Homo sapiens: one gene and its partners. The protein of the gene in region 5 purifies or fractionates together with the protein of the main gene of each other region. This does not show direct contact. Each region holds a gene or a part of one and is shown on either strand. Other genes may lie near its edges. The genes, in order: RIC8B, DMXL2, PPIP5K1, ALDH1A3, ZHX1-C8orf76, ALMS1 and UBE2Z.

Region 1 (3,500 bases), on a different chromosome or scaffold from region 5:
AATCTCTTTCTTTTTACAGGAGGGGGTGAATTTCAACAGTTATTTAAAGCTAAAAAGAGAATAAATGTGACATGTTATGCTTCTAGAAGGAGGGAAAAAAGCTTATGTCTACTTCACTTAATTTGTTGACTTCCTTAAACTAAGTTTCCTATTTAGCATATTGTTCTTGTGGGTACTCAAATGTAAACTATCAAATCTGCGTCACTTTGGGTTGCTGAAGGGTCCAAGCCACAGTGAAGAAAGATCTTTGTTTAGAAATAAGTCAAGTGGTTTAAAATAACCTTTCCCACACTCTGGTATAATCAGCTTGTTTTCTAGAACTTATATATGAGCACAGATATCTAGTTGTGGTCCTATGCCTCTGATAGTTATCTAACACTACAGAGAAACCTCCCAGAGACTGGGACAACAGGCATACACAGAGCATCTTCTACTCTCCTGAGCAGACACCAATTCTGATTGATCAACTTCAATTGGCTTGATCTGTCTTAACTTTTCTTTAAGATGGCAGCCACTGAAAATGCCTATAGCTTTATCAACTACATTGTTTTGTTTCCCCTCAAATCTTATAATTTAAACCTTATTCCTGAAAGCGGCACTCTTAAAAAGAGAGAATAATGCAACTCAGAAAACTATATTTGGCATCTTACAAAATAGTAGTCCATTTTTACACCTATTCTGATAGGTGTTATCACACAAATGGAAAGAATAAGACTTACAATGGTTAAGAAGTATATCCTGGGTAATACAATTGCTTAATGGGAGAAGTGGGAACTTTTTCCATTTCCCAACTTGTATTCTTCTCTTGCAGGAAACTCTAGGGATGTCCCAGACCAATTAAATTCCAGGTAGACAAAAATAGCCTTCTCTACCTTACCTCTTTATGCACCTTCCAACTGTCTACCGTCACATTGAAGAGAGCTTTGAGGGCCTCAATGGCACAGTCTGTCTCCTGAGGTGAGAGAGGAGGTCCATTATGGTCTATGGCCGATTCATACTCATCGGTCCACTTGATGCTAAAGGCACTTTCCAAGATCTGCGTTAGCAGCGGTAGTCCCTGGAGCTCATAGCGCAATTGTGACCTGATGTCGGTGTGCAAAAGTGACAGAAGGAAGAGCAAGCGCAAGTCAAAGCACTTAATGTCATTGATAAATTTCCGGTCCTTGCACTTTCTCAGGAGGTTACAGAGCTTTGCAGCAAGATTAAGTTCCAGGCTGAGCTGCTGTGCCATCTGACTGTTGAACACTATATTACACAGACATTTTAATGACTCCACAATAACTGGGAACTCTGATACTTTCTCCAAAGAATCATCTAACTCATTTAGCTTGGCTAGTCGCAGCAGTATCTGCATATTTTCCTTAGTTGTCACAGGAACTAAAACCTTTTTGTCTCTGGAGAGAATGCGGAGTACTTCCAGGCAGGACACTTGACATGTTGTTGGGATGTCCTTTATAAGGACTTTAAATATGCCTTCACAGAGTTTCTGAAAAACAAGAACGAGTATGCAAAAATCATTATTTGGCTCAAATGACTTAACACAGAATGTTTCTCTGCCAATGTACTTAACAACAGTTAAAAATCCAGAGAGAAAAGGTTTTTATTATTTTTTAAATCACGGAATGTTAGAAACTGAAATATAAGGTCACCATCAGGATGGAAGACAATCAGTTTGAATCATAGCTGTTCCCTTCCCAGAAATAAAGATTAACGTCTCAAGAATTGGTTCATATTTGTCCAGAGTACAGGCTCTTGCAAAAAGACTTAAAGAAGTATGCATTTCTGCTGAGTTTTAGTCATGCTATTGCTTCTGAATTTATAGCTCTTTAGCAGCAGTCCCATGTTTCAGAAACCCTTGAACCCCCTTTAGCTAAGATCTAATAATATTTAATCATCAAACAACCCCAGAGAAGAACTTTTGCTGACAAACTGATAAAAAATTATTCAAGTGTTAGGTTCCAAATAGAGTTGAATTAGCATCTATTATGCCTTGAGCCAATTGCAAAAAGGTGACCCCTCCTGGTATACAAACTACAGAAAAAAGTTCCCACTGGGTGGGCAAATTATTAAAAAGCACACATAGCTTGGAAAGCTCAGACTGTGGACAGAATTTTAGCTTTCTTTTGTTATCTTGCTGTAGGGCACAGACTGTACAAATATATGTAGTAGTTCTGGTTCCAAACCTTGCTATCAATATCTCAAAAACAATTCTAGAATGAACCCAAATATCTTATATTTCCTAAAAAGGATTTTTTTATACCATTGTCAAATTTAAGGATCACTGACCACTCCCTCAAAATTCAATGTCAGTTTTCTTCTCTACAAACTGCAGGTCTGGGTCTCTCAAGCTTACCCTTATATGTGAGGCAAGCAGGTATAACTACTCTATCACCGAACATTTCTGTACTCCCTTACATCTTATAAAAACAACAACTACTATTACCAATATAAGATTTTACAAAATTTCTATTAATCTATCATCAGACTTAATTCTTCAATAAAAAGAGGCTGCCTGTGGGTCCCATTGTGATCTTGTCAGGAAACCTAGGCTATGTGCACATAGTCATCAGCTACAAAAATGCCTATTTTAAATGTAGTCATCCCTTGGTATCTGTGTGGGATTGATTCCAGAACCCTCTGCAGATAATAAAATCCACAGATACTCAAGTCTCTTATATAAAATGGTATAGAAGGCTGGACGCAGTGGCTCACGCCTGTAATCCCAGCACTTCAAGAGGCTGAGGAAGGCGGAACATGAGGTCAGGAGATCAAGACCATCCTGGCTAACGTGGTGGAACCCCGTCTCTACTAAAAATACAAAAAATTAGCTGGGCATGGTGGCACGTGCCTGTAATCTCAGCTACTCGGGAGGCTGAGGCAGGAGAATCACTTGAACCAGGGAGTCGGAGGTTGCAGTGAGCCAAGATCATGCCACTGCACTCCAGGCTGGCAACAGAGCGAGACTCTGTCTCAAAAAAAAAAAAAAAAAAAAAAGGCATAGTATTTGCATATAACCTATGCACTTCTTACTGTATACTTGAAGACATCACTAGATTATTTATAATATCTAATACAATGTAAATGCTACGTAAATCGTTTTATTATTTAAGGAATAATGACAGAAAAGTTTGTACATGTTCTACACAACTATCCTTTTTTTCCTTGAGTATTTTCAACCTACAATTGATTAAATTCATAGATGCAGACTGCACGATACAGAGGGATGACTGTATTGCGTTCTCTAAATAGATGTGGAAAAGAACTTTATCTGATAAGACAAAAAAAAATTTCATAACATTGTCAATTCTATCCCTGCCATACCTGATATTTAGAAAGGACTTTCTCTTAATATTTTACTATCATTGTTAAAGCACTTTTTTTGAATGTAGTTTGGGGATAGTGGAAAGTATAATGTGCCCATTAATTAAAAGTATACAGAACAGGGAAAATTTTCTCCATATTTAGATCTTTCATATTCAAGACAAAAAAATACATTCTAC
Region 2 (3,500 bases), on a different chromosome or scaffold from region 5:
GGACTAGGGGTAGATAGCATTAAAGGAAGCCTCAGGAATCATGAAATGAGAGGATTTGAGAGTAAAACTTGCAGGCAAACGAAAAAAAAAGAAATTTAAGAAAACAAAAACCCACACACACAAAAATAAGAAGTGCAGGCAACTGGTTTCATATTTACATCAAATTCCAGGATTACATGAGCTATCTTTAAGAGAGAGTGAATATAGTCATGTCACCTTTGTTAAGATGTACTTGTCCCTCAATACCAAGTTACATCATGGATCAGGGTTTCAGAGCACTAACATAATGCAAAAGGATTCTACAAACTCGAAAGGACTGAAAACCCTAAAACTTCTACTGAAATATTTGGCTTCCAAATTTGTTTTAAAAAATTACTGACAAATGGCCGGGTGCAGTGGCTCATGCCTATAATCCCAATACCTTGGGAGGCTGAGGCAGGAGGATCACTTGAGGTCAAGAGTTCAAGCCAGCCTGGCCAACATCGTGAAATCCTGTCTCTACTAAAAATACAAAAATTAGCCTGGCATGGTGGCACGCACCTGTAATTCCAGCTACTCAGGAGGCTGAGGCAGGAGAATCGCTTGAACCTAGGAGATGGAGGTTGTGGTGAGCAGAGGTTGCACCACTGCACTCCAGCCTGGGTGACAGAGTGAGACTCCATCTAAAAAAAAAAAAAAAAAAAAAAAAACTGACAAGCTAGAGAAGTCTGACTAAATCTGAATTTTAGATATTCTATATTATATCCCATTTTAAGTACTGCCTTGGTTTCACAGAAGGAAATTAAATTGGTCAGGCATGACTTGTTTTTCTACTGTGCCATTATGGTTGTCACCCAACATCCTGTGCTCTTTCAGATAATTAAATACTGAGACTCTGATTTGTTCTAAAAATTTACCAAGATCCAAGTTAAGATAATCTGATTATAATTTCTAAAGTAATATTTTAAATAGCCCAAATCCTAAGAACAGAAACTAAAATAAAGGCATTGCACGGGAAAAGGAAAGCTGCGAAAGGAGAACCTAAACACCATCACACTGGTCCCATCTCCCACCCAATACTGTACTATGACAGTCGCAGGCAACTATCATCTGCCAGGTGCCAAGGACCAAAACCTAATCAAGAGGCTTCTCCTCAGCTGTAAGCCCAAAGACTCATTCCTAGACCCACTACTTCATAAATGCTCTGAATGGCCTATCTACTGAGCCAGAAAGGAGGTCAGACTCCCCGACTGTGAGGTCTGATCAAATCTTGTAAATACAAGTGAGATCTGATCAAGTCTTGTAAATACAAGTGAGAAGCAATATACGATAAAGACTCCAGACCTACAACTTCAACACAACCACTTTATGTTTCTAGTCCATTTTCTCTTTTGACCCCTGAAAATCTCTAGAGAAGTCCATATAATTTTCATTCGTGGTCTAAATACTTAAAGAATATCTTTAAGAACTTCTTTTACAGATCAAAGACCTAAACATGTTTAAGTGATTTCACCAACACCATACAAGTAGTTGGTCTCTGACCTCCCATTTTTGGGGAAGACATTATTCAGAACCTTACCAGAGTTTCTGAGTAGTTGCTAGGAGTCTTCTTGCTACAAGCAAGAAGGCTAATTAACAATCTACGCAGGGACATAAGAACTTATAAACCCTATATTCACTTACTGGTTGACACTAAGCCCAAGCCCACAAGGTTTTAAATGTATCCGTTTAAACAAACAAGAAGCTACACTCCAAGAACAAAAAGGCCAATTTCTCTTAGAAAACAAGTCCATTCTAAATTCTTGACTTCTGTCTTTCACTTTCCTCTCAGCACAGGTTAACACATTAATAACCAGCCAGTACAGAAGCATGTTTCTAACCAACCCCTTGATTCCCCTGGCCAAAAGTTCTCTTAGTCTTCCTGAATTCCCACTTAAATGCTGGTAATATTGCACAGCTGGCCTACTGTGGTTAGGTATGTGTCTTTTACTCTCGTATTAGACTACCAGGTTCCTACACTTCTTCAATAAACTCCCTGAAATCAAGACTATGTCTTGTAATTCTTTTTTTTTTTTTTTAATACCCACAAAGCTTAGCACACCTATGTGTTCAACATTTGCTAAATGTATAAACTGGTTGATCATTTTCAAGGTTTGGTGTTACCATAACTCTAGGACTGAAATTTTATTCTACAATAGAGTTAAGACATATCTAAATGCCATAAAAGAGGTTATACAACATTATTTTCTAATTTTTAAATGAATGGTTTTCCATTTATTTCCAACCTTTTGTTGGTATTTTAATTTAAAAAAAAAATTGAATGTCAGAATACCAGGTACGTTTTCCTGAAAAGCTACAGGTAATGTTTGCATATTATATTTTTTCAACATTCTAAGAGTGTCTGTTATTTAATGAAGAAGTCCTGTGATTAAAAAGTAACTTTTGCAAAGAAAACAGTCACTCAATAATTTATCCTTCGTATTATGCCATTCCTTTGCTTCTGTTGTTCTTATCTTTCCAAACCTTACTCTTCCATAAAACCTCTTCTTGTTTTCCCAACTACAATCTCTTCCATCTGCCTTATGTTATAATTATATAAATCATTTTAATCTCTGCCAGTATATTATAAATTCCCTAAGAGTGCAAATGACTTACTAATTTTTGTAAACTTTGATCAATGTGTTGAAATCATGTCACACTGGAATAATAGTAACTGCCCCTATACATCTCAAAATAGTCTGCAAGCCTTAAGGCCAAATGAATTTTTAATTTAAAAAATCATCACGTATGATCATTATTTCAATTAATATTTTAATATGTGCAGTAAAGTTTAAAAAATAGCCAAGGACTATCTTTCAGAAAAGTAATAACATAAATAATGAGAAATTTACAATATCTGTTGCATAAACCCTCAAAACATTCACTGAAGGGTAGTAAGAAATGTCTTAAAGGCAAAATAAAGTATAATAAAGCTCATACACGGGAGAAGATCATCTCTTTGAACTACCAGAGATTTGACTTATTGCAGGATAACATTTCGAAAACCTAGATCTTACACTGAAAAGAACAAAATTGTTCAAAAGGTGATGTTTTAAAATGTGATATCTACAGCTACATTTACGAAATCACAATCGAATGTTTAAGGAAACAGCTGTATACTGCCTAAACACAAGTGAAAAGCATCATAGCTTACGTGATACCACTAAAACCACAGACATCAGCTGAGATTGTCCACTACAGACTGCAGTACCATGTCAATATTGCACAAATTGGGACATCACGACATCAAGTAGTCATTCACAGCCAACCAATCACGCCACCCACCATGCACAGCAAAATATATAACACACATTTCTTTCAATTATTACACTGTCATAAACTCAAAATCCTTTTAGAACAATTCTGTTCTTCAAAGATGTATCAATTTTAGACTCTGAAATAAAGTATGTATTGTATTTTGAAAAGGTTCTCAGGCTACCATGAAACACAACATCAGCTAAGAATCATGAGTTAGTTGCAAG
Region 3 (3,500 bases), on a different chromosome or scaffold from region 5:
GAAAAGAAAGCCTGTGATTACAATAGGAAGCTTCCCATAGGCCTGAAAGAAGTCAATCTTATCAAGTCTGAGAGATGATACACAGAGCTTTCCTTTACCTGTGCCTTTTTTTTTTTTCCATCTTATAATGTTTTAAAATTTTTTGTAGAGACAGGATCTTGCCATGTTGCCCAGGCTGGTTTTGAACTCCTGGCCTCAAATGATTCTCCCACTTAGGCTTCCCAAAGTGTTGGGATTACAGGTGTGATCCACCACACGCAGCTGTCTATGTCTTATGACTGCATAAACCAGAAAAAAATGGTTGGGGGATGGGGGACGCGGTTCAGGCACAACAGCACCAGGAGAGACTAGCAGACCATGTGAATAGGAAAGACATTTGGAGGATCAGTTTATTGATGGAAGATTATGTATCATTCTATCCATGTGATCTATTGGATGTGAGTATAAAGGGTAATAGAGTACTACGGATACCAACCGACACCTACACCTCAAAGAGAAAATAATGTATATCCTACCTAAAGAAACTCTGCATATTACCAATGGCAATTTCACCTTAAAATAATCAGGAAGTAAAGGATGAATCAAAAGAAGAGACTGCAGTTCATCTTCTCAGCTTTCTCCAAAATCTGAATTGCAAAACTTTTGCTGAACCTAGGTCAGCTTGTTATAGATTCTTCTGATATATCCCTAAAATGGAAAAACCAATTCCTCTAAGATAGAGACCTGGCACCGAGCCAGGGTGAACACGGTCATTAGGACAGAGCAGAATCTAAATCAGACAGTCAAAGTCTCTGAGACAGGGATAAATTGTGGTGTCAAAATGAATGTAAGTGATACAGAAAGAGCAAGATAGGGGAAAAAAAAAAAGGATATAATTAGGCCAAAGACAGAAACAGTTTTTCCAGGAAAAAGACCAAAACAAAAACCTCAGATGGTTAGCTGGACACAATATGAGATTAATAACACTTACTGCCTTTAGGCTAGAGAGCTAGAACCAGAACTAGAAACAACCTCCAAGAACAGCAGAATATAGGCCCATGCTGATAAAGATCCTCATTAGAACAAGAGGAAGACAGACAGAGCTCTTGACTGACCCACTTTCTGGAATGACAGTACAGATAAAGTGCCAGGTATTTGCTCCTATCTGAGCTATAATTTTTACCCAAGGTGACCAAGAGCTGGAGAGGGCTGGACCTTTAATATCAATTGCATTGTTAATATATTACTGCTTGTTGAGCATCTATAAAGTGGATACTACTCACATTTTAGAGGTGAAAAAAAATTGAGGCTTAGAGAAGTTAAGGTCAGAGAAATGTAGAGAAGTTACCCAGCCAAAGTCACACAGCTTCCAAGTATTACACTGGGATTTTGGCCCGGAGTTCAAGCTGTTTCCACTAGATTTCCTTTTAAAGAACTACCTTTTCAAATTCATCCAGAGGCCTCCTCCTTAATCTTATCTCTTTAAACCCTTATCTCTCAGGCATCCCTCAATGGCAACTCTTTAATCTGAGAAGTAGCAACCAGTTAAAGAAGCACTACTGGGAGACCAGCTGTGAAAGAGAGATTAAGTAAAACATATCAATCAGAGCAGGAGGACTCTGCTTCAAGTCCCAAGAGACCCCCCAAGGGGATCTAGTGGATCTGTGGATATAGTCCTATGAGCACTGCCACCCCTTCATTTCTTCCCAAGGCCCTCTCATTACCTCCATGGAACCAGCTTTTCGGTTACGAATGAGGGGTGATCTCCTCGGAAGGCCAGGGCCCTCAGGAGGCTGGGGTGAAGTCTGCAATGCCCGGTCTGGTTCATCTGATGCCTTTCCTGGACACAGGTTCTCCATACTGCCTTGGTTGGTTTTCATCTCCTCATTCTATACAACAAAAGGCAGATAAGAGAGGTGTTAATGGCCTCCAAAATCCTAATCCCAGACTACCTAGCCCTTTTACTTCTCCCTGTACTGCTTCCCACCACTTGGTTCCTAAGTCCTTCAGTCCCAAATCCCAGCACTCTGACCCACCTCAGAAGAGGCTGGACGGAATCCACAGCCAGCCGGGGCACTGCCTTCTTCCTCAACACCTTTCACTCCGGGGCTGAAGTGTAGCTCCACATGGAACCGTTCCTCTGATAAGGGATCCTATGGAGCATAACCACAAGAGGGGGAAGTTGGGAGAAGCTGGATATTGTGGTGGAAGTAGAGAGGAACTCAAGGGGATTCATCCTCCCAGGAATTCAGGGTCTTGTCCCACTCCGGGGCTGACCTGTTATAGCTTCCTTTCAACTATATATTGTCTCTTACAGGATCCTCATTCCCTCATCTCTACCATTTGTGATTTCACCATTGCACATGACTTCTGAACTTCCAGCTTTACAACGCTTCCCATCACCTTCCACAATAACTCAGCTTGGCTGTGGTGCATATAGCAGAACATTTAAAGATACCTTGTGGGCCAGGAGCAGTGGCTCACACCTGTAATCCTAGCACCTTGGGAGGCTGGGACAGGCAGATCACTTGAGTCCAGGAGTTTGACACCACCCTGGGCAACATGTTGAGACCCTATCTCTACAAAAAATTAGCCGGGCATGGTGGCACATGTCTGTCATCCCAGCTACTTGGGAGGCTGATGTGAGAGGATCACTTGAGCCCAGGAGGCAGAGGTTGCAAGGCTGCAGTGAGCTCAGATTGTAGCACTGCACTCCAGCGCGGGTGACAGAGTGAGACCTTGTCTCAAAAAAAAAAAAAAAAAAAAAAAAGTATCATTGTGGAGCCGTATGCAGAAGGTATATGTATAACCATGTTTGAGGAAATAAGACTCATAACATTGTCCCAAATTCCATACTCTTCTAATGCCAGAGCTGTGTTCTAGGTTACCTCTCTGGCTCAACAACATCCCAGAACATATTTTCCATTCCAGTAGGAACCTCCTGGATGCTCTGTGTCATGCTGTGCGTAAGTGCCACACCTAGCTGGATTCTCCAAATTATAAGGATAAGCAAGTTTTTTTTTTTTAATAGAATTCAAAAGAAGGGGCCTTCCTCTCATCTCCCACCTGCTAGCTCCTCACCTGTGTGTTGTCCTCATAAAGCATGATGACAATCTGGGTCATGTAGTTAAGCTCTGAGATGGCACTAAGATAATCCAAAGCTCGCTGCCATTGTGCATCCTGGGTCTCCTACCAAATGCAAAAAGAGGTAAGCCATTGCTTAAGGAAATGGGAGTCAGAGAATGAGCAGGGAGCCAATGAGAATGGAGAAAGCTTTCATTTGAGAAGAGTAAAAGAATGCTGGGAAAAAGCTGTTCACAGGCTAAAGAAGAAGGAGGATCCTTACATCAAGAAGTCCTCCATAACGGAAGACACTGAGCAGGGAGTGGACATGGCTCTCACTGGTGAAATAGAGACGCGTTCGAACGTGGCGACCTGGGGAGAGCACGCCTCGGGAGTACCTGAGATAACAGCTAAATCACTCACACAGTCAGTTAACCCTGTTCCCACCCTTCTGCAAA
Region 4 (3,500 bases), on a different chromosome or scaffold from region 5:
CAACAATAGATCATGGACAGCTTTCCTTGTTGTAACGGCTGTAAAACATTCCAGAGAATGAATATAATATCCTTGAAAATATGTCCCTGAAGCCTCATGAGAAAATTTCTCTAAGTAGTTTTTTCTTTTTTTGAAATGGAGCTTCTGAATCGAAAAGTTTTTCACTTTAAATGTTGGATGAGTGCTACCAAAACACTGTGCATCTTAGGGCAAGTGTCGCTGAGCACCTGCTTCCCCATATTCTCAGCAGTATCATTTCAGTTCTTAGCAATCTGGCAGGCAAAAGGAAAGTCTGATTTTGTTTGAATTTGCATTTTCCTGATTACCAGCAAACTAGTTTAAGCTTAATGGGCACGTCGTATTTCTATTCTCTGAACTGCCCATTTTTCTACCATTCAGTTTGGTTTTTTTTTTTCATTGACTTGTAGGAGCACTTTGCATATGACGGATATAAATTCTTGGAGCACTGCATGCATCACGACTATTTTTCTCTGAGCTTGTTATTTATCTCTTAATCTTAATTATGGTGTTTGACAGATGAATATTTTACATTTCTACTTTATCTTATCTCTCAATCTTTTCTTCTAAGGCTTCTGAGTTCTATTAGATATTTATTTAGTTTGGAAACTAGACCAGTGACTTTTTTTAACTGGTTGTTATGTACTAAAACATGGTCAAATTTAGAAGAAAAACAAATCATATTAAAGCCTGTCAAAGGAAAAGCTCACGGGTGTCAAATAACACGCCCCTTTCACTTTCCCCAGCACCCTGTGAGGAGGGTTACCTCTGTGGAGCCGGTGAAGGCGATCTTGTTGATCTGAGGGTGAGAAGAAATTGCTGCTCCCACTGTGGGCCCGAATCCTGGCACAATGTTCACCACTCCTGGAGGGAACCCGGCCTGGGAAGAAATCAAGATAGCACTTGAAGAAGAACGGACTTCATCCACCACGGATCCACATTTGGGCCGAGAGAGCCGTGGCTGCCTCACATCCCCACAGGGAACCCGGGCCGGGCTGGATTTACCCAGGACCCAGAAGCAGTTGACCGTGGGCACCCTGGGAGCTGACCTGGGCTTCTCATCCCCTGCTGCCAGCCCAGTGTGCAGGCTGGGCAAGGGGAGATGCCCACTTCTCCTTCTGGGGGGGGACCCCATCCCAAAGTGATATGCAGTGCAAATGTGTGGTTATGCTTCAAGGTGGCCATGGCCCGCCTGTAGCACAGCACCTTTCCATGTGGGGTGTGTGTGTGTGTGAGGGAGAGTGTGTGTATGCGTTAAGGGGAGAGGGGTACCTTGATCAGAATGCCCTGCCCAGGATCAGAGGCACCTGCAAAATATCTGCCAAGAGCTTCAGTTTTGTTTTTTCTTCTTTTTTTTTTTTTTGAGATGGAGTCTTGCTCTGTCGCCCTGGCTAGAGTGTAGTGGCGCGATCTTGGCTCACTGTAAGCTCCGCCTCCCAGGTTCACGCCATTCTCCTGTCTCAGCCTCCTGAGTAGCTGGGACTACAGGTGCCCGCCACCACGCCTGGCTAATTTTTTTTTTTTTAAGTAGAGATGGGGTTTCACTGTGTTAGCCAGGATGGTCTCGATCTCCTGACCTCGTGATCCACCCACCTCGGCTTCCCAAAGTCCTGGGATTACAGGCGTGAGCCCAGTTTTCATTTTTTAATCAGACCCGTTATTATTCCAAATGGTGACAGGGTATCACTCCCTTAAAGTTCTTTGCTTGTTCAACCTGGGTCTCACCTGGAGCAAGCCCTTCTGGAAGGCAGGGACTGCCACCTCGTTCACGTTCATGCCTCGTGTTTTTCATATACTAAGCCTCTTTATCAGGCGAGAACACAAAACAAACGAGGTGGAGGATGCTCTTCCCCACCTGTGCTGAGTCTTACTTAGAACACATTATTTCAGAAAATCAAGATTTTAGGCACGCTGCTTGAGTCTTTAGATTTTTAGGCACTGTTTCTTAACAGTTGGGATTTTCACATTCCTAAGTCTCACCAGTGTGACTTAATTATGCCCCACATCACCAAAGGAAAGTGGAAAATTGGCTCATCACCAGCTGTTCCCACCTTGCTTCTAAGCAACTGTGGACCTGCCTGCCGGTCATATCAGCCCGACTAAGAAGAGAAAGGAATGGATCTTTTCTTCTGTCCCTCTTTGCTTCCTGTTGCTTTCTCTAAATCTTTGCTCCATACAACCTGGGGATGGAATGACTAAAGGTATGTCTGGAAGGAGGTGTCCCATTGAGCCTCTGTTTCCCTAAGTTCTGGCTGCCTGAGGGAGAAGAGATTGCATTCAGAGCAGAGGGCACTGATTAGCAGGGACCCGGCACACGGACTGCTGCAGCCGCCCAGCTAGAGCTGACGAGGCCACCTCTCCAGAGAAAAATGGACCATTTCATAAACTGAGAATGCAAATCCCAGAGAACCTCCCAAATATTTGGCTCCCTCTTGGTTGACCCCCCCTGAAAATTCTCTAGACAAACCACTGGGTCCTCAACCATAGGTTTGAGCCCATAATAAGAGTTAAGCATTCTCATTAGGACCACTGGGAGGAATGGAGTTTCTCCAGCTCAGTGGCCACAAGCAGGAGAAAGAACGTGCAGTCGCCAAACAAAACACTGGAAGTCATTCCCTTCCCACTCGATTGCCAGCAGTCTGCCACTGTCCCATCTCGTGACGGTGGCCTGGTTCCTAGGAGTGGGAATGTTACCAAGAACATGTGATATTTTCTTTTTGGATGTCTCACCTCTTTGATCAGAGAGCCGAGATAAAGGGCGGTGAGAGGTGTCTGCTCCGCAGGCTTCAGGACCATGGTGTTCCCACAGCAGAGGGCGGGTGCCAGCTTCCACACCAGCATCAGCAGGGGGAAGTTCCACTGCGACAGAGCACAGGGGCTTTGGAGGCCCAGATCCACCCTCTTACCCTGTCCCATGTGCTCAACGATGCCTTTGTGGAGGACACTTGCTTTTCATGGTCTGGATTTGGGGTATGTGGGGTAACATAGGAGTGTGCAATGATCAGAACTGCAATCCTGCACAGCACTTCCTAAACTGCATTCTGGGTGGTACTAATAGGCAGCCTTTGCAAAGAGGATGCTGTTGCATGTGTTCTACCTCTCCCTCTAAAACATCTGCTGAAGACGTGTCCTCCTCCCTGCCTCCATGGGCACTTTTTGAACCCTCACTTCATGTTGCCACCTGGCTCTTCAGCTTCCTGCCTGGCTGTTGTTGCAATGGCCAGAGGCTTCCCAAACAGACAGGCAGCATTGTTGCACTTCTTGGGCACCTATAAGCATCCCCACCGCCCAATGAATAAAGTCCCGGCCCCTTAGCAGCCAAAGCTGCTGGAAGCTGGCCCACACCACCTGCCACGTGTGCTCACCCTTTTCCTCACTTTTGCTCCTGCCTGAGCTCTAGCCCCACCAGCTTTCCTGCTGTTCCCTTCCAAGTAGCCCAGCCACCTCTGCACTTTTGCCTAGGCCATTCCCACTCCTTGGAA
Region 5 (3,500 bases):
CAGTGTCTCCTTAATTTCCTCCGAGGAAGAAAACTAGTCCATTTAGACTAATTCCCATATAAAATTTACACAACAATCAATACAAATAATGCCTTAACCTAGAAACAAAAGCAATAAAATCTAGAACTGGAAAGAACTACCTTTCTTTATCCCTTAAAAAAAAATTCCGCTTTAGAATGTGTGGAAAAAGGCAATAAAATTTTTTTTTAAAGAAAAAGAAGGCCGGGTGCAGTGGCTCACGCCTATAATCCCAGCACTTTGGGAGGCCGAGGCGGGCGGATCACAAGGTCAGTTTGAGACCAGCCTGACCAACATGGTGAAACCTCGTCTCTACTAAAAATACAAAAATTAGCTGGGCGTGGTGGTGCATGCCTGTAATCCTAGCTACTCAGGAGGCTGAGGCAGGAGAATCGTTTGAATCCGGGAGGCGGAGGTTGCGGCAAGCCGGGATCACTCCACTGCACTCCAGCCTGGGTGACAGAGTGAGACTCTGTCTCAAAAAAAAAAAAAAAGAAAGAAAAATTCCCTTTTTCTTCAGCGAGGCTGCCGAGCTCCAGATGCAGAGATGCAGATCTTTGTGAAGACCCTCACAGGCAAGACCATCACCCTTGAGATCGAGCCCAGCAACGCCAAAATTCAGGACAAGGAGGGCATCCCACCTGACCAGCAGCGTCTGATACTTGCGGGCAAACAGCTGGAGGATGGCCGCACTCTCTCAGACTACAACATCCAGAAGGAGTCCACCCTGCACCTGGTGCTGCGCCTGCGAGGTGGCATTACTGAGCCTTCCCTCCGCCAGCTCGCCCAGAAATACAACTACAACAAGATGATCTGCCGCAAGTGCTGTGCCCGCCTGCACCACCCCGTGCTGTCAACTCCCGCAAGAAGCGCGGCCACACCAACAACCTGTACCCCAAGACGAAGGACAAAGAAGGCTCTTCCTTCCCCAAAGAGCGGCGTCCTGCCCAGGCCTCATGGCCCTGGGGCCTCAATAAAGTGTCATAAAGTGTCCCTTTCGTTGACTGGGGAAAAGGAAAAAGAAAAAAAAATTCTGCAAATTCCACTTAAAAATAAAAAGGACTACTAAGTGTGGCTTGGTAATGAGTATTTAGTCATTTTGGGGGGGGGACCTTTTTTGGCTTAGAAAAATACTGTTCATTGTAGAAATTTTGGAGAACAACGTCTAAAAACAATCTAACGAAGAAAACAGATCACTCATAGTCCTTCCACACTGAATGTTACTCCTAACAAGAGAAAAACCTCTGCAAAGGAGATTTTCAGGCAATACAGAATTTTGAGCATGACACAAGAAAAATATTACAAGAAAATGATTATGTCTAGGTTCCAAGTTGTTCATCATAATAAAACTCTCACACCCCTGACAATTTTCTTCTGCTTATCCAAACCCATAGATTTTGCTACTAGCAAGAAGTTTGTTTTGTTTTCAAAAAATACACCATTCGACCACCCTTATAGGAATGTGTGTGAAAATAAGCAATAAAATCACTCACCAAGTTTGCAGCAATCTCCAGCGCCTCCATATGCCTACCCAGGTGAGCCAGACACCGAGCCTGACCTTCCTGGACATCCCTTTTCATGGCAAAATTGGTTGATGACAATTTTTCAGAGATACTGGAATACTCCTGCAGTGCTTTCTGGAAATTATTTGTTAAATAAAGAAATGAAAGGAGGAAAACATAACAGAAAAAAGGATTCAGAATAGGGGTGATTTTTTTTCCTAGGTGGAAAGTAATGTTATAACTGACCAATGAATTACATGAATATTTAAATGAATTAAAGAAGATTTCACTATTCTAGTGATATGGTTTAGCTGTGTCCCCACCCAAATCTCATCTTAAATTGCAGCTCCCATAACCCCCACATGTTGTGGGAGGGACCTGGTGGGAGGTAACTGAATCATGGGGGTGGGTTTTTCCCATGCTATTCTCATGGTAGTTAGTCTCAGGAGATCTGATAGTTTCATAAAAGGCAGTTCCCCTGCACACACTCTCTTTGCCTGCCGCCATGTAAGACGTGACTTTGCTCCTCCTTCACCTTCTGCCATGATTGTGAGGCCTCCCCAGCCATGTAGAACTGTGAGTCCATTAAACCTTTTTTTTTTTAAATAAATTATCTAGTCTTGGGTATTTCTTCATGGCAGTATGGAAATGGACTAATACATCTAGTCAATCCTACTTTCCTAAAAGGTAGAGAAGGAATGGCTAGAGAATATAATCACTACTACTATGGAAAGCATCATGATATAGCAGAAAGAACATTCTGGGACCAAATATACTAGGCTTTGAATTCTGGTATTGCCACTAACTTACTTTATAACCTTTTCATCAGCAAAATAAAAACAGGATTCTCATGCAGATGAAATGAGATACATATGTAACGCAATCTAACATCTAGTTGTTAGTTCTTTTTCTTATACATTTTGGGGTGATTTGCTCCTGTGGCACTGTGAAATGTCTGTGCTAGAGGGTCCTAAGTAATGAGGAGATTCAGAACCTTGAGGAATAAACCTACAAGGACAAGGACCCCAAAGAGATCCTTTTGTTGGAGTTACAGAAAACAAACAAATCATACAGAGCCAAGCAGAAAAGAACGGAAACTTGGGAGCCTCAGATTATAAACACACATCACAAAAGATTAAACTCATCTTCATAAACACCACACTAACTTGGTACACTGTTATTTACATATGCCATAACTGATAAAACAAGAGCCCACTTCAAGCACCATATGTTGAATTCTACCTGATACTCTTGTCGTCTGTAGGCCAGGTCTCCTTTGAATTTCTTGAGAGTCAGCACTTCAACATCATCACTGCTTTCTGTTTCTTCATAAAACCACTTGAAATCATGAAAATAGCCTATTACAGAGTGAGCTATGCTTTTCCACCTCATATTCAGAAGCAATTTCCCATAATATAATTGATTAAACGTCAAAAAAAGACTTCTTCAAGAGTCTGGCCAGGTTAGTCTTGAACTCCTGAGCACAAGTGATCCTGCCTCTGCCCACCTTGGCCTCCCAAAGTGCTGGGATTACAGGTGTGAGCCACCGCACCCAGCCCACATTGGTTCTTTAAAATGAGACATGCTTTCTTGTAGATAAACTTTAGTGTGACTGGAATAGGGATTGACAATTCTTTACTGAAAGGACATAGGAAAGAAGAATTATAGATATGGTGCTATTATGAAAATGTCATAATGGCAAAAAACTAGAATTTCAGCAAAGGAGACAGAAATTAAGGCTAGAAGGAGGCTCCAATGCAACCAAATACCAAAAACCTGTAGGAGAGAAGTCTGAGGAAATGCCCATCTAGGATACTTTATTTGCTTTTCTACTGATTTAAATCCTATGGATAAAAAGGAAAGTGAGACTGAGATTGCTTGACTATTGAATAAATAACGTAGGGAAAGGCAGTGGCTTACACCTGTAATCCCAGCAATTTGGGAGGCCGAGGCGGGCAGATCACTTGAGGTTAGGAGTTT
Region 6 (3,500 bases), on a different chromosome or scaffold from region 5:
GCTGAAACTTTCAAAGCCTCTTCAGTTAGATGACTGTCTGGCAAGCCCTGCTGGTAGAAAATGCTGGGCTTCCCCCTATGTGAGTGGGAACTAGAGAGTACTGTTGGTGTTGCAGTCTTCTGGTCAGCTGGTTCAGGAATAGCTGTGACTTTCAGAGTCTCTTCAGTTAGATGAGTATCTGCTAATGTCTTTTGGTTGAGAGTATCAGTGTGTTGACCAGTAGTAGTTTCTAGAGGAGAACTTACAGCCAACTGAGACAGGTCCTCAAGGGACAAGGATAAATGAGATCCAATGTCTGAATCAACAGGAGTGGTAGTGATGCCTGACTTCAAGTTGGATTGAGTAACTTTAGCTATGCCTCCTTTAGAAGTGTCTCCTAAAGAAAAAGAGATTTGTTAATAGTATATAAAATTTTCTATTTTAAAATTCTATGTGCTGGAAAAAAGCCAGCTTTGAGCCTTTAAAAAGCTTCTAGAAATGAATCCTAAGGAAACAGCCATCAAAGGAGATAAATATTTGCACACAAAGATATTAATTAGAAAACTAAAGTAAAAACATTTTAATCTTCAACAACAGAGTAATGGTTATAAACAACAGTATATCCAGTGGATGAAATATTATATGGATCTTACAACTTGGATTTTTAAGAGAATTTTCAATGAGATGGGATAATGCTATTGGGTCTAGGATTTGATTTCACCCTACTTACAATCTGTTATTGTGTCTTGCAGGCTGGCAGAAGACATAAGGTCTTCAGTCAGAGACAAAAGACTTCATGATCCCTGGTACAGCAAAGGCTCATCAGCTTATTTTCACGGGTTCCTCCTGCCCCCAAGTCCCACAGGGGCAGTACAATATGGCCTAGAGGGATGCTATGCGTGCAGTGAGTTTGAAGGACTCTCCCAACAAATGCACCCTGTATAATATATATATATTTAAGTACATAAAACTGAAAAAACTCTAAAGGTTACTCTGAAGAGTTTTAACTTAATTCTGTATAGCATGGCAAGTTGTTTACAGTTTTAAAGTTTTCAAGATGAGTGAGAAGGGAATGTAAAAATCTAGGTTGCACAATCCAACAAACATTTCTATAGAAATGTTCTATATTTGCACTAATACAATAATTCTAAATGAAAGCAGTTTTAAACAGCAGTGTAAAGTAAGTGACTGCAACAGAAATGACAGGATTTGACAAGCTGTCCCTTCATTCATTGTTCATTCAAAATACATGAATGCTTACTATGTTCCAGGCACTGTTCTACATACAGCAATAAACAGACAATAATCCCTACCTCACAGAGCTAATTTGTATTCTAGCAGGAGGAGGCTGACAATAAATTGGTAAAACATATGATGTGTCAGATGGTGTTAAGATGATTGATATATAGAGCAAGTATTATCTATTTTTTACGTATAGGGAAACCGAGTTGCAAAGATGACCATGTAACAGTGCTTCTCAATGTTGGGATCTTGTTAACTTGCAGATTCTGACTCAGTAGGTCTGGGTGGGACCTGAAATTCTGCATTTCTAACAAGCTCCCCAGGGATGCCCAATGTTATTGGTCCTCAGACCACATTTTAAGTGCAAAGATACATAGTTTTTCTAGAATTGTAGGTGGGTAAGTGACAAAAACTGGTACTTTAACCCTTAAACTCTAAATCCAAGTTCTGAGCTCTTTCCACTACAACTGACTGGCTTTCTATGGCCACTGACGAGCTTCAAAGGAGCTGAATATAGAATGAAATGGGTTGAGGAGTGAATTTCAAAGTAAAGAACTAGAAGTATCAAGTATTAACTCTTCAAGAAAAGTAAAAAATTTAAAAATGTAACATGCATTGTAACCTGAGAAGGAATATGAGTTACAAAATTTTGTGAGGTTCTTGCCTGCTGGGTCTAAAGAAAATAAGAAAAGTTTTTGTGAGGAAACAAAACAGGCTCAAGAAGCTAATAAACCAAAACAGATTAACAAAACAAAACCTTGTTTTTCTAAATGATTTCCTGATTTCTCAAAGTTTTTATATCCCTTTGGCCATTACAAATTATTAGTGACACCATGAATGGGGACAAATGAGATAAATAGCTAAGGAGTTAAGATGTACAGCCCAGGTCCTTGAAAGATCCAGGTTACATAAGATAAGGTCTTTTTAACCTCAGGGGTAAAGGAAAAGATTAGTAAAGAAAACTGGAAGAACGACTATAGGTTAAGCTGTTAAAAGCGAGGGAGGAGATGCACGATGTTAAAGAAGAATTCTTGTCAGTTCTATATAAAGTTAAGGACATATATGTCAAACTGTCAGAAGAATGGTGATCACAAATCCATTAACTATGATTTATAAAATGTGTCTATGTACATAAGGAGTTCATGATGAAAAATGGTATGTTTTTAGAGTCCTTATTATTCTCTCAGCCCTGGGAAAGAAGAATACACTAAGTGTGAGTGTTAACAATATTACTACATACTGATATAATCTTTGGAGATTCATTTTCAGAACTAGGGGTGAGTTGAAGAGGTAAGTTTCGACCAAGAAGAGGAAGATGGCTGCCAGAAAAGACTATACTACACCAAAGTTGTATATTGGGTGGGAACTGTATGCCTCTTAGAGATGACATTAAGACTAACAACCTGGGTACAATTTACTCAAGAACTCTTCTCCATACTAAGGTGCTTAGTAACACAGAAGGCTTCCTAGGTGACGAAGACAGCACGGTTTTATTTCCCCAAGTATATTCTGACATAAGAAGAATAAGCAAGCCCTTTATTTCTCACAGACAAAATGAGGTACAATTCCATACTTCCATTTTACATATGACTAAGAGCCTCTTACTAGTAATCGTTCCAAGTCAATTATTATGGGTTTTAATACTAGCACACACAAATAAATTACTATAGCTCTCATTTTGAGCCCTCTAATTCAGTCACTAATAAGTCTGTAACGGGGCTGGGAAGGTAGTGAGGAGGATGGTTAATGGGTACAAAAATGTAGTTAGAATGAATAAGCTCTAGAATATGATATAGTACAATACGGTGACTACAGTCAACAATTATTTATAACGCATTTTAAATTAAAAGAGTATAACTGGAATTTTCACAACATAAAGAAATAATGAATGCTTGAGGTGACAGATACTCCATTTACCTTGATGTGATTATTACACATCGTATGTTTGTGTCAAAATATCTCATGTACCCCATAAATATATACACCTACTATGTTCTCATAAATATTAAAAATAAAAAAGATTTTTTTTTAAAAAGTCTGGCAAAAGCACCTATTGTGTGTACAGAGAAGTAAACTCAAATTCATGTTTTTTTAAAAAGACACCAGTGATATTTTAAATGGGTCTTTGTCTTCATTGTTGTTATTCTTGCTTTCTAATTAATTACTATATCATTTTTATAAGTTCCTAATTATTAATTATTGATAACTAAATAATTATAATTGTGTTGTATTTCGTTAATCCCTCAGTTAACTCATAGATGTTTATCTCTACATTCATT
Region 7 (3,500 bases), on a different chromosome or scaffold from region 5:
AGCCGAGATCACACCACTGCACTCCAGCCTGAGTGATGGAGTGAGACTCTGTCTCAAAAAAAATTTTTATTTTTCATTTTTGAAAGGCATTTTATTATCCTTTGTTCAGGTCTATAGAGGAAGAATCAAAGTTGGTGTCATATGTAATAGTTTAAAAATAAATTAAGTTGGCCAGGCATGGTTGCTCACGCCTGTAATCCCAGCACTTTCAGAGGCCAAGGCGAGTGGATCACCTGAGGTCCGAAATTCGAAACCAGCCTGGCCAAGATGGTGAAACCCCTTCTCTACTAAAAATACAAAAAATTAGCCAGGTGTGGTGGTGCGTGCCCGTAATCCCAGCTACTCGGGAGGCTGAGGCAGAGGAATCACTTGAACCTGGGAGGCAGAAGTTGCTGTGAGCCGAGATTGTGCCATTACACTCCAGCCTGGGTAACAATAGTGAAACTCTGTCTCAAAAAATAAATAAATTAATTAAGCTGTTCTAATCACCTATCCGGAATCATTTTCTTTTGGGACTATCACTGGAACTTTTTCCCGTGCTCATGAGTAATTCAGGAAGGCACATCGGAAGAGTGGGAGAAGTTGGGCTCCAATGTAAGTCTGGGGTCCTATCCTGATCTGTGTGTCTTTGTGAAAGTTAATTAACCTCTCTGAGGCAACATTATTTCACTTGAAAATGGGAATAACCATATTTAACCTCACATAGTATGAAGGTTAAACAAGAAATTATATATAAAAACTTGGTAGTGTCCAGCACAGAGCATGCTCTTGGAAAAATGTGAGTTTTCTCCACCTTCTCGTTGGCACTGTTAACTCAAAAAGTCTTGCCCGGGACTCCTAATGACTAGCTCCTTTGACTCTGCAGGTAACAGTCCTTCATAACCCCAGAAGAACAGCTGGCTGGGTAGTAGTCCCTACAGAGCAACTTTAGGGGATGCTGAGAATATAGGCACATAGAACCCACTGGATGCCACAACCCCCAAAGCAGGTCAGAATTAATTTCCAAAGGAGTCCATTGACTTCCATGCTATAAAGGAATCCAAGTCACATACTTATTGTAACTCTCACAAATAAAAAAATTCATTATTATTATTATTTTTTTAAGACGGTGTCTCGCTCTGTCGCTCAGGCTGGAATGCAATGGCCCAATCTTGGCTCACTGTAAGCTCCACCACCTGGGTTCACGCCATTCTCCTGTCTCAGCCTCCGAGTAGCTGGGACTACAGGCGCCTGCCACCACACCCAGCTAATTTTTTGTATTTTTAGTACAGACTGGGTTTCACTGTGTTAGCCAGGATGATCTCAAACTTCTGACCTTGTGATCTGCCCGCCTCGGCCTCCCAAAGTGCTGGGATTACAGGTGTGAGCCACCGCGCCTGGCCATTATTATTTTTTTGGGGGTGGGGGGACCGAGTTTCGCTCCTTACCCAGGCTGGAGTGTAATGGCGTGATCTCAGCTCACTGCAACCTCTGCCTCCAGGGTTCAAGTGATCACACCCAGCTAATTTCTTTTATTTTTAGTAGAGACAGGTTTTCACCATGTTGGCCAGGCTGGTCTCAAACTTCTGACCAGTTAATTTTTAGTAGAGATGGGGTTTTACCAGGTTGGCCAGGCTGGTCTCAAACTCCTGACCTCAGGTGATCCACCTGCCTGCCTCAGCCTCCCAAAGTGCTGGGATTACAGGTGTGAGCCACAGTGGTCGGCAAAAAATTTCATTACTAAAAAACACGTGTCAATTCCCTTTTTTTCCCTATACCAACAAATGTAGTACATGGGGCTGTGCTAGGTCCAAAACAAAACAAAACAAAACAAAACAAAAAAAACCTCCCAAGCAGATCTCTTAAAACACTATTCTGGCTGGGCGCGGTGGCTCACGCCTGTAATCCCAGCACTCTGGGAGGCCGAGGCAGGCGGATCACCAGGTCAGGAGCTGGAGACCAGCCTGGCCAATATGGTGAAACCCCATCTCTACTAAAAATATAAAAATTAGCCAGGCATGGTGGTACACGCCTGTAGTCCCAGCTACTTGGGAGGCTGAGACAGAATGGCTTGAACCCGGGAGGCGGAGGTTGCAGTAAGCTGAGATTGCACCACTGCACTACAGCCTAGGTGACAGAGGAAGACTCTGTCTCAAAAAAAAAAAAAAACAAAAAAACCAACCAACCAAACAAACAAAAACAATAGTCTACACCCCAGAGCCAGGCCCATCTGGCCTTACCTGTTCAAAGCCGGGCTCATTGTGATAGGGGTTCTCAGTCATCAGGGACTGGATAGAGATGAGCACTGAGGAGATGCTCTGGGCTGGGCTCCAGGCAGGTCCAGTCCATGTACTGTAAACACATCAGAAGGAATGGAGGGTGAGGCAGAGAAAGAATAGGGAACAAGTACCCTGGGGCCCGGCAACACCACCATAAGTGACTCACCATAAGTTTCTCTTTCACTATTAATACTCTGGAATTTCCCAGCCTCTGTCTCATGCTCATGTTCTGATTTCACCAGAAATCAGTCAATTGCCTAATCCTCAAATCAAGGGGGGGGGGCAAAAGAACAGGTAATAGCAAGCTATGTAACTTTGAAGGGATTTTCTTTGTACTAGAAACAGTTACGACAATCAAAACAAAAGAAATTAGGTAAGCAATTAGCTCCAAAGTTGTCTAAATGTTAATCTCCGTGGATCTCAAAGAGCTTGTTTATGGGTGGTGATGGAGTTAGTGAGGGGAGAGGGAAGTTGAGCATAAAGGGACACAGGTGACTGAAGCCATCTGGTTAGAGGCCATGTGGTGGGGCTATTGGGGATCCAGTTCTGTATCAAACCCCCAAGGAGTGTCAAATTCTCTTAAGACTACACAACTCTTCCAAAGAACAGGAAGAGAATAAGGGGTGCTTCCAGACAGTGGAAGGTCTGAAAATAATATATGGAAAACGTCAAATACCAAAATTGCTCCTCTCTTTCATAAACCCAACCAAGTATTAGGGGGAGGGGACAGCTTGGATGTTAATGACATTTATTTTTAGCTCAATTAATTGAAGAGATGGCACCGGAGCTGGAAGCCGAACACAACCTAAGCCAGGACTGGCTTGTTCAAGTTGACTGCCTGCTTCTGTTTCCCTGCTGTACTTGAGGAAAGCCCAAGTCAGTAATGCCTAATAGTAACTTCACTGGGGACTGCTCTTAAGTGCCTCTATCTTTTCAGCTTTGCTCCCCCAGGAACTCTAGACCTACTGCTCTCTGAAGCTTTACAACAGAGTCAACTCTCGTTAAATTTCTTTTGTCAGTAAGTCAGCCCAACATTGTTTTCTAGGTAAAGAGGAAAAAAAAAACATGGCTGATAAAGCTAATACAGTCAACTAGGAACACCTAAGAATTTTCTTTTCTTTCTTTTTTGAGACAAAGTCTCCCTCTGTCACCCAGGCTGGAGTGCAGTGGCGTGATCTTGGCTCACTGCAACCTCTGCCTCCCAGGTTCAAGCAATTCTTGTGCCTCAGCCTCCCGAGTAGC

What was found.
Region 1: the proteins of ZHX1-C8orf76 (region 5) and RIC8B purify together in Homo sapiens (affinity purification with mass spectrometry; one large-scale study listed by BioGRID and IntAct). This does not show direct contact.
Region 2: the proteins of ZHX1-C8orf76 (region 5) and DMXL2 purify together in Homo sapiens (affinity purification with mass spectrometry; one large-scale study listed by BioGRID and IntAct). This does not show direct contact.
Region 3: the proteins of ZHX1-C8orf76 (region 5) and PPIP5K1 purify together in Homo sapiens (affinity purification with mass spectrometry; one large-scale study listed by BioGRID and IntAct). This does not show direct contact.
Region 4: the proteins of ZHX1-C8orf76 (region 5) and ALDH1A3 purify together in Homo sapiens (affinity purification with mass spectrometry; one large-scale study listed by BioGRID and IntAct). This does not show direct contact.
Region 6: the proteins of ZHX1-C8orf76 (region 5) and ALMS1 purify together in Homo sapiens (affinity purification with mass spectrometry; one large-scale study listed by BioGRID and IntAct). This does not show direct contact.
Region 7: the proteins of ZHX1-C8orf76 (region 5) and UBE2Z purify together in Homo sapiens (affinity purification with mass spectrometry; one large-scale study listed by BioGRID and IntAct). This does not show direct contact.

The regions. Positions count from the first base shown.
Region 1 is NC_000012.12:106,812,682-106,816,181, reverse strand, and holds part of RIC8B (chaperone Ric-8B), read right to left. Parts: intron 1,487-3,500; coding exon 878-1,486; intron 1-877.
Region 2 is NC_000015.10:51,616,272-51,619,771, forward strand, and holds part of DMXL2 (dmX-like protein 2), read right to left. Parts: intron 1-3,500. UniProt on the Homo sapiens protein: May serve as a scaffold protein for MADD and RAB3GA on synaptic vesicles. Plays a role in the brain as a key controller of neuronal and endocrine homeostatic processes.
Region 3 is NC_000015.10:43,569,709-43,573,208, forward strand, and holds part of PPIP5K1 (inositol hexakisphosphate and diphosphoinositol-pentakisphosphate kinase 1), read right to left. Parts: intron 3,453-3,500; coding exon of another isoform or gene 3,441-3,452; coding exon 3,326-3,440; intron 3,169-3,325; coding exon 3,061-3,168; intron 2,133-3,060; coding exon 2,016-2,132; intron 1,869-2,015; coding exon 1,704-1,868; intron 1-1,703. UniProt on the Homo sapiens protein: Bifunctional inositol kinase that acts in concert with the IP6K kinases IP6K1, IP6K2 and IP6K3 to synthesize the diphosphate group-containing inositol pyrophosphates diphosphoinositol pentakisphosphate, PP-InsP5, and bis-diphosphoinositol tetrakisphosphate, (PP)2-InsP4.
Region 4 is NC_000015.10:100,893,331-100,896,830, reverse strand, and holds part of ALDH1A3 (retinaldehyde dehydrogenase 3), read right to left. Parts: exon of another isoform or gene 2,878-3,500; coding exon 2,749-2,877; exon of another isoform or gene 899-2,748; coding exon 785-898; exon of another isoform or gene 765-784; intron 1-764. UniProt on the Homo sapiens protein: Catalyzes the NAD-dependent oxidation of aldehyde substrates, such as all-trans-retinal and all-trans-13,14-dihydroretinal, to their corresponding carboxylic acids, all-trans-retinoate and all-trans-13,14-dihydroretinoate, respectively.
Region 5 is NC_000008.11:123,236,287-123,239,786, forward strand, and holds part of ZHX1-C8orf76 (zinc fingers and homeoboxes protein 1), read right to left. Parts: intron 2,859-3,500; coding exon 2,763-2,858; intron 1,656-2,762; coding exon 1,512-1,655; intron 1-1,511. Other genes in the region: uncharacterized protein C8orf76, read right to left, coding at 1,512-1,655, 2,763-2,858.
Region 6 is NC_000002.12:73,444,836-73,448,335, reverse strand, and holds part of ALMS1 (centrosome-associated protein ALMS1), read right to left. Parts: intron 377-3,500; coding exon 1-376. UniProt on the Homo sapiens protein: Involved in PCM1-dependent intracellular transport. Required, directly or indirectly, for the localization of NCAPD2 to the proximal ends of centrioles.
Region 7 is NC_000017.11:48,914,907-48,918,406, reverse strand, and holds part of UBE2Z (ubiquitin-conjugating enzyme E2 Z), read right to left. Parts: intron 2,332-3,500; coding exon 2,220-2,331; intron 1-2,219. UniProt on the Homo sapiens protein: Catalyzes the covalent attachment of ubiquitin to other proteins. Specific substrate for UBA6, not charged with ubiquitin by UBE1. May be involved in apoptosis regulation.